Linked DNA regions of Homo sapiens. The protein of the gene in region 1 interacts with the protein of each later gene in a pairwise test. Each region holds a gene or a part of one and is shown on either strand. Other genes may lie near its edges.

Evidence for each region. The genes of interacting proteins can lie anywhere in the genome.
Region 2: the proteins of COL4A5 (region 1) and SLC10A4 interact in binary tests that used the Homo sapiens proteins (3 or more experiments, as listed by UniProt).

Annotation. Positions count from the first base shown.
Region 1 is NC_000023.11:108,694,838-108,699,329, reverse strand, and holds the end of COL4A5 (collagen alpha-5(IV) chain isoform 2 precursor), read right to left. Parts: coding exon 4,409-4,492; intron 4,064-4,408; coding exon 3,891-4,063; intron 3,034-3,890; coding exon 2,952-3,033; 3' UTR 1,785-2,951; downstream 1-1,784. UniProt on the Homo sapiens protein: Type IV collagen is the major structural component of glomerular basement membranes (GBM), forming a 'chicken-wire' meshwork together with laminins, proteoglycans and entactin/nidogen.
Region 2 is NC_000004.12:48,478,094-48,487,217, forward strand, and holds the start of SLC10A4 (sodium/bile acid cotransporter 4), read left to right. Parts: upstream 1-5,249; 5' UTR 5,250-5,468; coding exon 5,469-6,058; intron 6,059-6,838; coding exon 6,839-7,049; intron 7,050-9,124. UniProt on the Homo sapiens protein: Transporter for bile acids.

The DNA.
Region 1 (4,492 bases):
ATTGGAATGTCTACTTTCTTACACAACACATGTGTGTGTATACACTTATCCATATGTGTGTGTGTGTATATATATATTACGTAATATATATATAATGGAAGTTATTCATGTAGACCTCAATTTTTCTGAAGATACATGTGCACGTGTGTGTGGGTACACACACACACACACACACACACACACACACACACACACACATACACAGCTATAAAATACTAGGATTTGGTCCTTAAGTAACATCTGAATCACGAAAGATTCATTAACTGGTAAAACCACATTTGGTACACATAAATATTTGGTAGTCAAACTATCTGATTAAGCAGAATAGTTCATTCATTTCCTGCCAATGTGAGAAAGCTATTAATTGTGTATGACTGTAAAACTTACCATAGTACTTCTGGAAATTTCACAGATGATAAAAAAGCAAAAAAAAACAAAAACAAAAACAAAACAAAACAAAACACAAAAAACTCACCATAGGTAACTAGTAGAGCAGCTAGATTAATCTTTGAATAATTCATGGCAAGAGAGGGTTAACAATATTAATGTCCTGGAATGAATTTGTGTACTTCAAACAACAAAGCAGGGCTAGGAATAGTTAGGAGATTTAAGAAACACATAGACTAGCTGCACATGCAACAATTTAAAAATTAGGAGGTTCTGGGATGGGCGTGGTGTCTCACACCTGTAATCTCAGCACTCTGGGAGGCCGAGGCAGGCAGATCGCTTGAGTTCAGGAGTTCAAGACCAGCCTGGGCAACATGGTGAAACCCCGTCTCTACTAAAAATACAAAAAATTAGCCGGGCGTGGTGGTATGCACCTGTAGTTCCAGCTAGTCTGGAGGCTGAGGTGGGAGAATCGCCTTGAACCCAGGAGGTGGATGTTGCAGTGAGCCGAGATCACGCCATTGCACTCCAGCCTGGGTGACAGAGGAGACTGTCTCAAAACAAAACAAAACAAAACAAAACAAAACAAAACAAACAAACAAACAAAGGAGGTTCTTTTTGGGCCAAGGCTTTCAACCAGCTATAAATGAGAGGGAAAGCTACAAAAAGCAAAATCTCTGGAATTAGTGTTTGCGACTATAACAGAAGGGGCACCTTTGAGTGTACACCATGTAGAAGAATCTGTGGGGCTGTGATATGGTGTTTTCAGTTACAATTACTCATTACTGACTTTATGCATGGGACTAAATGAAAAAATAGAGCTAAAATTTGCGATTGGTGGCTATCCAGAATCAATAAAATAATTAGATAGTTATCATTGTTTGGATCCTAAGTTTTACCACCAGAGATTCTAAGCTTTAGATTTTACATAGGTCCATATTAGGATTTAGAATACTCAAAATTGTTTTGGTTGTTTTATCTTTTAGCTGTAACACAAATTTTACTATGGAAGTTTTTAATATTTTATTTTTAACCAGTCCTTGACTATTTTAGAGAACTATGCGTGTTCATTCTTAATCATTAAGAATATTAGGTCACTAACCTGCTTTAAACATTATTAATGAATTCTTCCCCAAATAGAAGCCAGTTGTTTCCTTTCTTAGCCATTAACACAATGTTGTCAAGAAATTTATTATCTTGGAAATGTCTTCCAATAGGTAGTTTTCTTCATTGGAAAAAGTTTACATTACTATGTTTTCTATCTACTAACAGAGTGATCAAAGCGTGGAGAAACTGATTCCCTGGGAAGAGATGACTTGTTGATGTGCAGATTGGTAATCTATCTGTAAATGAGCAGGGGTTTTTTCCACACAGGCTGAAGAGATACACAACAGACCATCCTTACAACATATATCTTTAATTAAATTTATATTGGTGGGTTTAAAAAACATTAAGTCAGGAGATGATAGCTAGGGAAATAAGGTATCCTGTGAGTATTTATAACAAAATATTTAAAATTTAAAAAGAATAAGAAACATCAATTGGCTTTTTGTAACTTAAAAGAGACTAACCAAGTGTTGTTTCCCAGTTCTGTACAAGCAGAGGCCACAGGAGGATTCTTACATAAGAAGCACAGGGAAAAGAATTGTTAATTCTGCGTGTGTGTTTTTGTTTCTCAGAATTGTTTGGAAGAACTTTGTCCAGTCAGAAATGAGTAAAAACAAGATGTAAGAAACATTAAAACAGGGGGCATATGGTCTTAAGAGATAATCTTGGAGAATATAGCAAAAGACAAATTGCTCCATTAGATATTATAATTTGGTATGTAACATGAACATTTAAAATTCTGATTAAAGTGACTAAAAGGGTTTGTTTTTTAAAAAAAATCAAAACAGAACTTACGGGATAAAACTCAAAATAAATTTACTCTCAGTAGTAACTTGATGTAGGAATATAAGTCCTCTCACTTTGATAAACATGAATATAAAATATTGCTGTCTGTATTCTAGGGTTTCCTACATTTTCTGTAAAGAGTGATTCATGCTATGTCATATGTAAATGACTCAACATTTTGAGCTAAAAGGCTGTTCACAATATACACATTCTTTACTTACAAAGCAAAATAAGCTTAACACCTTTATATTAAAAACCCGGGATACAGCAGGATTAGTAGCACCGTGAAAAATAATTCTTCCCACAAACTGCAGTCTTTTATTTTACTCAATGTGACTCTTCTCTTAATTGAATTTTTAATGTACCATTTTAGTAACTGGGCAAAATATATAATTTTCATCTTATAATTCTTGGAGAAAGTCATTCTGGACCCAAAAAGTAAATTCACTTCCTTATTTCTTTAGTAGAAAAATAATAGAGACTTTGCTCTGGCGCATTGCTGAGGTACATCTGAATCTTCATGGTTACTAGTCAGCATGTTATCTTGATCATATATAGTAGCACCATTGACGGCAGCAGTAGTAAAGTTGGGGACAATGAGACACTGCATCCTAGGAATTTTATATATATATATATCACATTTTAAAACACAAAAGGAATTCTTCAAAATGTTATGTCCTCTTCATGCACACTTGACATCGGCTAATTCGTGTCCTCAAGTCTCCTGCTTTCAGCGTTTCTGACTGAGGTTTACTGGGAAATAAGAAATAAGACAATCAGATCCACATTTTCTGGTATTTCAATTCTGTTACTGGTTCAAATTTATAACTAAACATTTTTTGTGTGTTAAGTAGCTCTCTTGGTGACTTAATGGTTTACTTTTCAGCAATATGATCTAATGCAGTGACTAGTATGGTTTAAGAGCCATTAGTGGTCATAGATATTTTGTAACGATTCTCCCCACCACTATTATCTTTGTATATTTGTGTTTCCCTCTCATTTTCTATCTTTTTCTCTTTCTCTCATACATTTTTCTAATATTCACAGGATGAGGGAAATCTGGGCAACTGATGATGTTATGATAGATAACAAGGACCATAAGAAAAATACCAAGTAGTGATAACCCAAAAGCAACACATAAAAATAAATTTAAACTGAAAAAAATCAACAGAATGAAGTATCCTGAGGTACATACATTACGTATGTCTTGCTCATTCAAACCCTTAAATGAGAATCTTTAAAATATCCTGGGAAAGGAGACCACTGGACTGAGAGGGAAAAGACAGACTGTAACTTCAATTCCTGGGGTGGTCTCAATCTAGTTGAACAGCTGCTGACTTATTAGGAAGGTCACATAACCTTTCTTTATCTCTGTTTCATTATTGAAGGATTACTACTAAGCTATCACAAACCAAACTCACCTAATATTAATAATCAAGTCTGTTTTTCTGACCTGAGTCATGTATATGAGAAGAACAAGCAAGAATAAAGTACACAATCCAATAAATTCCTAACATTTGTTGAGGATAAACCATCCATAAATTGTCTCTTTCTTCCCTAGCATCTCTGAAGGAAGCTTTGGACCTGAATTAAAGCTATAAGCACTTTACCTGAACATGTCTGACACATCTACAGTTGCCAGCCAAAAGCTGTAGGAGTTGGCATAGTAGTTACAGGTACCCCTCCCATGACATTCGATGAAGGGAGCTGAACGAAACTCTTCCAAGCAGGAACCAGGGGAGGCTAGGGCTTGACCTGAGCCTTCTGCCCCTGCACTTGTATGCTATAAAAGACAAGGAAAAATGTGCCGCAATACCCATGTGCCATAATAGCTTAGTGAATATCCAAAGATGTGTGCTGAGCTTGGCCAAATTCAAATCTAGTGAAGGAACAGGCCCAGAGGTAAGACAATAGTATCCACACCAAGGGTAGTCAAAAAAAAGTAATAGGCAGATTATGAAAATATGTTACAAAAAATGTGTGAGGGGGAACACAGTGCTTGGATAGAAGCTGTTTGAAGTTTAAGCTTCTTATTATGCAAATGACAGGGATTCCTCATATTGGGAAGAAATGTAGATGGAATGGACAGTCAGCTATGATGACAAATGCAAGGAAGAGTGTAAAATACCATCATGAAGGAATAACCAATCCACAGAGAATCCCATCCCTGAGGACAATGGGGAATCTGGATCGTCTGACTGTGAACTGCGAT
Region 2 (9,124 bases), on another chromosome or scaffold:
CCAGTGAGGCTTCCATAAATATGACCTCTGCCTGGCTGGTCCACCAGGCCACCCAGACATTCCTGAGCAGGTTTTAATATGCTTGAGTTCACCATGAGCAGACAAGCCAGGCCCTCACTGATTTGGAGTATCCAGACTTTTGTGCCAAGTGTATAAATGTAATATTGGGAATTAGTAAGTGTTTTAAGAGTGGCATACTTTTTGGACACAGAAAATAATCTTTCGTTTTATCCATCATTAGTTAGTTATTAAAGAGTAATTAATGTTGTTAGAAATGGACTTTTTTATTCTGTAAAATAGACTTAATTATATAAAGCAAGTATAATCAACAGGCCATGTTGCTTTTAGATACAAATCAGCTAAGAACAATGTTCCAGTCAGCTCTCCTGTTTGACGGATCTCTATTAAAAGCAAACCTTCCAGCTTCCTTTCAACAAAAGTGGCCAAAACAAACATGTCTGTACAATAGTCCCCCCTTATCCTCAGGGAATATGTCCTAAGACCCCAGTGGATGTCTGAATCTGTGGGTAGTACTGAACCCTATATATATCTACTATGTTTTTTCTATAAATACATACCTCTTACAAAGTTTAATTTATAAATTAGTTGCAGTAAAATATTAACAACAGTAACTGGTAATAAAATAGGACAATTATGACAATATGCCAGCATCACTACTGTTGCACTTTGGGGCCATTATTAAATGAAATATTAATTGAACACAAGCACTGGAATACTGAGACAGTTGATCTGATTACTGAGCCTGCCTACTCAGTGACTAATGGCTGCCTGTCTACACTACCTACCCATTGGTCACTAATGCCAGGCACCTGTAACCCCAGATACTCGGAAGGCTGAGGCAGGAGAATCGCTTGAACCCGGGAGGCGGAGGTTGCAGTGAGCCAAGATCATGACACTGTACTCCAGCCTGGGCAACAGAAGGAGACCTGTCTCAAGAAAAAAGAAAAGACAACAAAAAGGAATGCAAAAATCCTCCATAATCCAATATATTTTGGCCCAGTCTTTTTGAATGCAACTATATAAATACTTTTAAAGAAACTGGGGCCAAGAGCCACCCTGCAGTCTGCTATGACCATGCCTACATGCCTATGAATAGCCACTGCACTCCAGCCTGGACAATGTAACATCTCTAAAAAAATTTTTTCTAACAAAATACAAAAGAAAGAAATCAACATAAAACGGTACATAACTTGCTTTTTTCACATAAAAATATAACATGAAAATTTAAAATAGTTGCATAGTATTTATTCTATTATGTAAATAAAAAACAATTTACTCAACCAGTTGCATATTGTTGGATACTTAGGTTGTTTCTAATTTTTCTTCTACCAGTCTTATACGTTGTACTTAAATTGTCTGCAAGTCAGATGATTTCTGTAAATAGGCAAAATACATAATTTATAATAAAGTATTTTTATTATTAAACTGAAAAAGTTCTATTTCACTAGTAGTTAAATAAGCACAAAATATGAAACTTTTAAAACAGCATATTGACAAAGATTCTTAAGGTAGCAGTACTTACTTCTGGAAATGCAATGGAAGAAGCCCTCAAACACCTTTGAGGGTGCTGAGGTACTGAATACAACTTCTGTGTATGCTTATTGCTTTTCTGCCTACTCAACATCCATTTTTCCTCTTTCTGTTAACAGCACCCACTATTCCTCTGAGGAATCCCTTCCCCAAATTTGAGTTGATGTGTCTTGAGTGGGGATGAGACCACTCCCTTGCTTGAGTGAAAGCATTCCATCCTATGGCCACAATGATTGGTTGAAGGATGGGTACACTTCTCTTGCCTATTTTCTATTTAATTTTTAAATTTAAATGCTTCTACTCTTAAAAAGCCTCCTAGCTTCCTTTCAAGAAAAGTGGCCAAAACAAACATTAGTGTACAATAGTTCTCCCTTATTAATCCCAAGTTAACCCCAGGACTTTTATGAGAACTCCTGGAAGTAGGTGCTCTCTTTCCATGATTGTTTCTATGGTAGGATATATCCAAATTGATTGTATCCTTGCCACTGTAACATAATAGCATATATCTGAATCTTTTCCAGTACTGAAAAATGGCATCTAATTGCTTCAATTTAATTGCTCTGGATACTAGTGAATGTGACTATTTTCATAAACATGTTGGCTGCTTGCATCTCTTTTGTGATCTTGTGTCTATTCATGTCATTTGCCTCTTTTCCTATAAAATAACACAATAAAACTTATAAATTAATCATAAATTTTCTCTTAATTTCTTAAATGATGTTTTTACTATAACAAAGTTGAAAGTTTTTATGTATCCATATCTACTGAGCTCCCCATTATGATTTCTTCTGTTACTTTTTTGCTTAGAAAAATTTTCCATATCCAAAGATGAGATAAACACTTGCCAATCTTTTTCTCTAGTATTTTGTTGCATTATTATTATTATAATAGTTAACCCTTTAATCTACTTGGAATTAGCTTTGGTATACACTGTGCCACAAAGCTCTAAATTTATTTTTCCCCAAATAGCTAGCTTAATTTCATCTTCCTTCCTTCCTTAATTTTTTTTTTTGACACGGTTTGCTGTCACCCATGCCTGAGTACAGTGGCATGGTCATGGCTCACTGCAGCCTTGCCCTCCTGCGCTCAAGCGATCCTCCCACCTCAGCCTCCCAAATAGCTGGTACCACAGGCATATGCCACCACAGGCATGCGCCACCATGTCTGGCCAATTTTTGTAGTTTTTGTAGAGACAGGGTTTCACCATGTTGTCCAGGGTGGTGTCAAGTTCCTGGGCTCAAGAGATTTGCCCACCTTGGCCTCCCATAGGCGTGAGCCCCATGCCTGGCCATATTTTCTAAGTACTATGTTATCTCTCCCTTTTACATATTGTTTCCCCCTTGGGAAAAGAATACTTCACTTCACCAGTGTCACCACACCAGTGTCATCACACCTGGAGAATGGGCTTAAACCTAATCCTGGGGTTTTCTCATACATAGTGAGGAAGATGAGAAAGAAGGGGAGGCCAGAGCACCTGTTTTCTTTACAATGACAATCACCCCATCAGCAGGAGTGACATCAGGTGTGTAGGTCCCAAGAATCCCCCAAGATTGCAGGTGCAACATGCCCCATGATTTACAATCGCAGCCCATCATCCCCTTCTTTTTTATTTTTTCAGATGGAGTCTCAGTCTGTCATCCAGGCTAGAGTGCAGTGTCACGATCTTGGCTCTCTGCAAACTCCACCTCCCAGGTTCAAGCAATTCTCCTGCCTCAGTCTCCTGTGTAGCTGGTACTACAGGCACACACCACCATACCCAACTAATTTTTGTCTTTTTAGTCCAGATGGGGTTTCACCATGTTGGCCAGGCTGGTCTCGAATTCCTGTCTTCAAGTGATCCACCTGTCTCAGCCTCCCAAATTGCTGGGATTGCAGACAAAAGCCATGATGCCAGGCCCCTTTCTGTTTTCAGTCTTCGCCCATTGCACAAGTTGCCGCCCAAGTCCCTCCCTAAACCCTGAGAGGAGGTAGTTGGATGAGTTGAGTTGGTCTGCCTCTAATTACTGCTTATTTAATGTGATTGTGAATTTTAATATCATTAACATGATGAGGGTTTCTGAGGCAAATAGGAGTGGTGCCTGCACAGTTGGCTTCAGCTGGATCCCTTGCCATTTGTGTTCTTGGCTTATCTCATTCTGTGGTTTCAAGACTGTGAAGGCTCAGCAGTGCCTTCCCTCCTTATCTTGTCTGTTTCTCCACACATCTTCCCTGGGTCTACTAATGTAACGGTTGGGTAGCATGGATCATTGTATATCTGAATATCTTTCTTTTTACCTACATAAGGTGACATGTCAACTTAAAATATTTTTGGTCACAACCCACTTCCTTTAAAGTTTAGCTCACTGAAGTTTTTTTTTCTGGGTTTAGTGTTTTGGAAAAGTGTAAGGGTACATTATCCTCCTAGATTCTTGCAAAAGCTCTGCCCTCGTGGAATTTACAGTCCAAAAGAGAAAAAATAAATTATTTGTGATGAAGAGTGCAATATGCTTTGCATTTGCAAAGTCTTACTTTTCATAGTCTCCATCATCTTCATGAGATTTGGGGAGGAGGAAAGGCTCAGCCCACCCTTGGGTAATAGAAGTCACTCTGTGCCAGGACAGGAGTTAGGGAAAAGTTCCCAGATAGAAGAATTCACTATATCTTGGCTCCTTGTGAAAGCAACCCTGGGCTAAGACTGAGCCTTGATTTCATTCTAGAAATTCCTGTTGGTTTTTACAACTCAACTGACTATCACTTTATGGTCACCCCCAGGGAGCTAGATGCCTCCTTAACAGGCCCCACCTGGTTGGTAAGCAGCGAAATTATTTTCCTTTCTACATGCCATCTAGTGACTGACTTAAAAGTTGTTGCATCTCCATTCCTAAGAGCTCTGCTTTTGAATTGTTTTGGGATAAACCTGTCTCAAGCAGGGAATCTCAGCACTTTATTTCTTTTCAGTCCTTTAATCCTAATGCCAGGGCCTTACTCATAAAGCTTCGTAAATCTGTGGCCACTGAAATATCCTCTCTCCACCTGCCAATAACTTCTTAAACACACATTTTTCATGGAAATTGTTATTAGCCAAGCTCTTCTCTGCCCTCTTTAGGGACACATCGCCGTGCAGATTCAGCCAGGTACTTGTGGGTTCGGTTGATAAGACTGAGAATTCCTCGTTCCTCAGTTTCCTCGTTTGTAAAAATCGAGCTTGTAAAAATGGTATCTATCTCACGGCTTTGCTGTAAGAATCGAATGAAATAATGCACACGCACTTGCACAAAACCCGCTATATTATTATTACATTCTACTTTAAGACTGAAAATCATGCAAAAAATTGTTTGCAAATTCAAGCCAGATATCGTGTCCTGCTTACTAGAGAATCGCTCATATTAAGTCAAGCACCCCTCTTAGGGCTGCAGGCTATAGGAACAGTTTCTGCCATGAGCGTGCATCGATGAGGTTATCCACCCGCCCCCTCCACTTTGTGTGTCTGGGTCTCCAGATTTCATTATAAAGAGGCAGAGCCCATCAGAGAACTTGATCGGCAGCCAGGAACGGTTTTTTCCTGCTCTGGTCCTTTGTCAGGTCTTTGTTCCGCCCCTGGCTACACTCGATAACAGAACCACTTACTGGCGATTCACAGGAGGGGACCGGGCGGCAGGGCGGGGCGGGGCCTGCGGGGCGCGGGGCCGCGGCGCGGAGCCGGCGCAGCGATTGGGTTCACCCGGGGGGCCGCGCTGCGCGGAGTGCCAGGCTGCGGGCGGCTGCAGACCTGGGAGCGGAGACCGGCCCGCCGCCCCCGACGCCGCCGAGCACGTCAGCGGCGCGCAGCCGGGGCTCGGAGACCGACGGGCAGAACGACGGGCGGCGACTGCGGCGACCGCGGGACGGCGAGAGGCACGCGGCGGGAGGGGACCGGAATCCGCAGCTCCGGCCGCGCCATGGACGGCAACGACAACGTGACCCTGCTCTTCGCCCCTCTGCTGCGGGACAACTACACCCTGGCGCCCAATGCCAGCAGCCTGGGCCCCGGCACGGACCTCGCCCTCGCCCCTGCCTCCAGCGCCGGCCCCGGCCCTGGGCTCAGCCTCGGGCCGGGTCCGAGCTTCGGCTTCAGCCCCGGCCCCACTCCGACCCCGGAGCCCACGACCAGCGGCCTCGCGGGCGGCGCGGCGAGCCACGGCCCTTCCCCGTTCCCTCGGCCCTGGGCGCCCCACGCGCTCCCGTTCTGGGACACGCCGCTGAACCACGGGCTGAACGTGTTCGTGGGCGCCGCCCTGTGCATCACCATGCTGGGCCTGGGCTGCACGGTGGACGTGAACCACTTCGGGGCGCACGTCCGTCGGCCCGTGGGCGCGCTGCTGGCAGCGCTCTGCCAGTTCGGCCTCCTGCCGCTGCTGGCCTTCCTGCTGGCCCTCGCCTTCAAGCTGGACGAGGTGGCCGCCGTGGCGGTGCTCCTGTGTGGCTGCTGTCCCGGCGGCAATCTCTCCAATCTTATGTCCCTGCTGGTTGACGGCGACATGAACCTCAGGTACGGATCTGTCTATTCCTTGGGCATCTGTCTCATCCCAGACGCGCGTTTACGGCCGTGGGCTCACGACGAAGGACAGAGGCAGTGGAGGGGTTGGAATTAGGCGTGGAGGAAGGAGGAGAAAAGGAGAGGAAGTTGATGACGCCCCGGCTTTAGAAGTCAAGGCCGACCTGCAGGTTGTGCTGCTAGGGGAGCAAGCTAGACGGCGAGGGAGCTGCTCCAAGGCTGGGATTCCATGCGCAGCGCGGCCCTTCAGCAGGGTCCCTCGCCGTCCTCCCCGAGCGTCGGGGTGGCAGCGCAGGTCGTTGTCCAGTGGAAGACAAAGAGAAGGGGGAGTCTGAACTAGAACTCGCCGGCAACGTAAAAGTAAAATAGGGCTACTGGCCCGTCAGAGAAAGTAATCTCACATAGAGTGCAGGATTGTTGAGTCCGACCAACAAGTAGCAGTCAGCAGCTTTACCATGGCTTACCTTGCAGGGGGCTTGCAAGGAAGAACGTTCCTTCCCCTCAGAATCATCCAGGCTCAATAGACTTTATAATGTCGAGGGCAGCAGTACCGAGACAGGGGGCTTGTTTTTCCTCCCTGCCTTGGGTTCATAATTCCATCGGTGTTAGACGTGCTGCTCTCTTGGCACTCTCCTCGGATGTAGGTTCTGCCCAGACTTCAACCCCGGGACTTGCAGTCTCCCCGTTCCACCTCTACTCAACATACAAGAAAAAGGTTAGCTGGCTGTTTGACTCAAAGCTCGTTCTGATTTCTGCACATTCCCTTTTCTGCAGCATCATCATGACCATCTCCTCCACGCTTCTGGCCCTCGTCTTGATGCCCCTGTGCCTGTGGATCTACAGCTGGGCTTGGATCAACACCCCTATCGTGCAGTTACTACCCCTAGGGACCGTGACCCTGACTCTCTGCAGCACTCTCATACCTATCGGGTTGGGCGTCTTCATTCGCTACAAATACAGCCGGGTGGCTGACTACATTGTGAAGGTAAGGCCCCCTCTTCCCTTTCCATACTAGCTTGGAGAGCCCTTGATCTCTGACCCACAGCAGAAATGTTAGGAAGTTTGGAGAAGGCGGAAAGGAAGAAAAGGACTTGGAAGTAGTTGCATGGATAAAATTTTTTTTAAAAAGTTTATGCTACAAAGATAACTTCCACTTTTGGGATTCCTAGAATGACAGCTTTAATTAAGACACAGCTTAATCAAAACCAGCATAAGAGAACTATCAGTACTCATTGGAAGGAAACAGATCATAGCAGGGTGGGGAAGATGACAGTGTAATTAAATGGCAACATATTTTCCACTAATTGTATATAATTAAACATAAAAGCAGATTAAATAAAATTACTTTAATAGAATTGGTGCAGTATTTTAGAAATGCATGGCTATCTTTTCAAAAATGGAACTCTAATTCTGAGAAACTCTGTAGTAGGTTCCTTTAACATTTTATTAAATTTTTAAAAGTAAGTTGATACTAATAGGACAAAAAGTAATGGAAAAGTTACATTGTAGTAATAGAACACACAAAATATTGGCTTTAAAGCACAAAATAAAATTGGGTCCTGGATAAATAATGGAGGTTATGTTGACCTTACTAAATGTGTTTCTTTTTCTTTCTCCATTGCAATATTTTATATGGCTTATAAAGCTAGTGAAAAGATAGGGGATTTCTATAATTTGTGCAATATTTCTCCTAAGGCTTTGATTTTTTAAAAAATGAATGCTTTCTGTAGCAGTAGAGATTTTAATAGTTTAGTAGATTCTAGTAGTTGACTGGAGGAAAAAAAATCTTTGCAAAATTAAGCTGTCTTTGAAAATTCAAAAACAGTAGCAAAAAAGAATAAACCATGACCAGGATGCTGACTTCAGGTAATTAATCAAATAAAATACGTAACTATTACTGCAAAATGCACAGGCAAATTCCTTTAGACAAATGAAGAGAAAAAGAGCCACCCTAATGTTTCAATTATGTAGATTCAAGAAGACATAATCTTTTGTTTTACTTATTTTCTAAAGTAATTTGATTATATAGAGTCAGCTTTTATTAATATGAAAAGTAGAGAGTTCTTTTCTGTGCATATATCCAGGCTTGAGTAAAAGAAATCCTGCTCCATAATACACATGTATATGTGAATGTAAAAATGTATGTGTACATGTAAATATGCATATATTAATACCTGTAATATATACTCATAGATACTCTTGAGATGCATTAAGAACTTGTTAATCTTAATCATTAAGCTAATGCTATTAATGTGATGGCATTTACTATAAAACCTTAGGAAGTCTAAGAGAAAGTCAATCAAATGACCTATTTACACACCCAAAACAAGAAATATATTTAAAATAAATATATTAATAAATTAATATATTTAATATTTAAATATAATAGACATAAGATTAGCTACCTTTGAATTTAAGGTTAACCTAGCCCTATTCTTTAATTAACACACTATTAAGAAACGGTTTATATAATTGTTACACCTTTGCAAACACTTCAAAATGAGCATTCAATGTCAATGCTTGCCCAAATGATTTAAAATAGTTCTAAGGGACTTTGGAGCCAATATTTCAAAATGAAGAAATCAGACTGTTTGTCAGCGCTTTCAATGTGACATACTTTGAAATGGTATGCTTTTACATGTAATAGCCTGGTTTCTGCCAATTATGCATCTGTAGTATCTGTACCTTATATAATAATTATTGCAGCATCCTCTAGGGTAGAATTTGTGACCAGCTCAGATAAATTTTAAATAATTTTTTAAGAGTGTAGAGTTACGCCATTCCCGAAGACTGCAAAAGGGATATCCCAGCTATCCAGGGAACCAGAAGCAACATTTAAGCTGTTCTCTCTGGCTCTAGTTTCCTTTCCCTGCCCACTCCTCATTAAAAAAAAATAAGTTAACTACCAATATGAAGGAGAACGAGGAGAGGAATTTTTAGATTTCCGCCTTACAATTCATACAGACTGTTTTATTTGAATGAGTGAAATGTACCAGTCAGAACATCAAGATGACACGTTTTATACAGAAGTCAGTTGTACTGTATCCGAAATCCATCTAT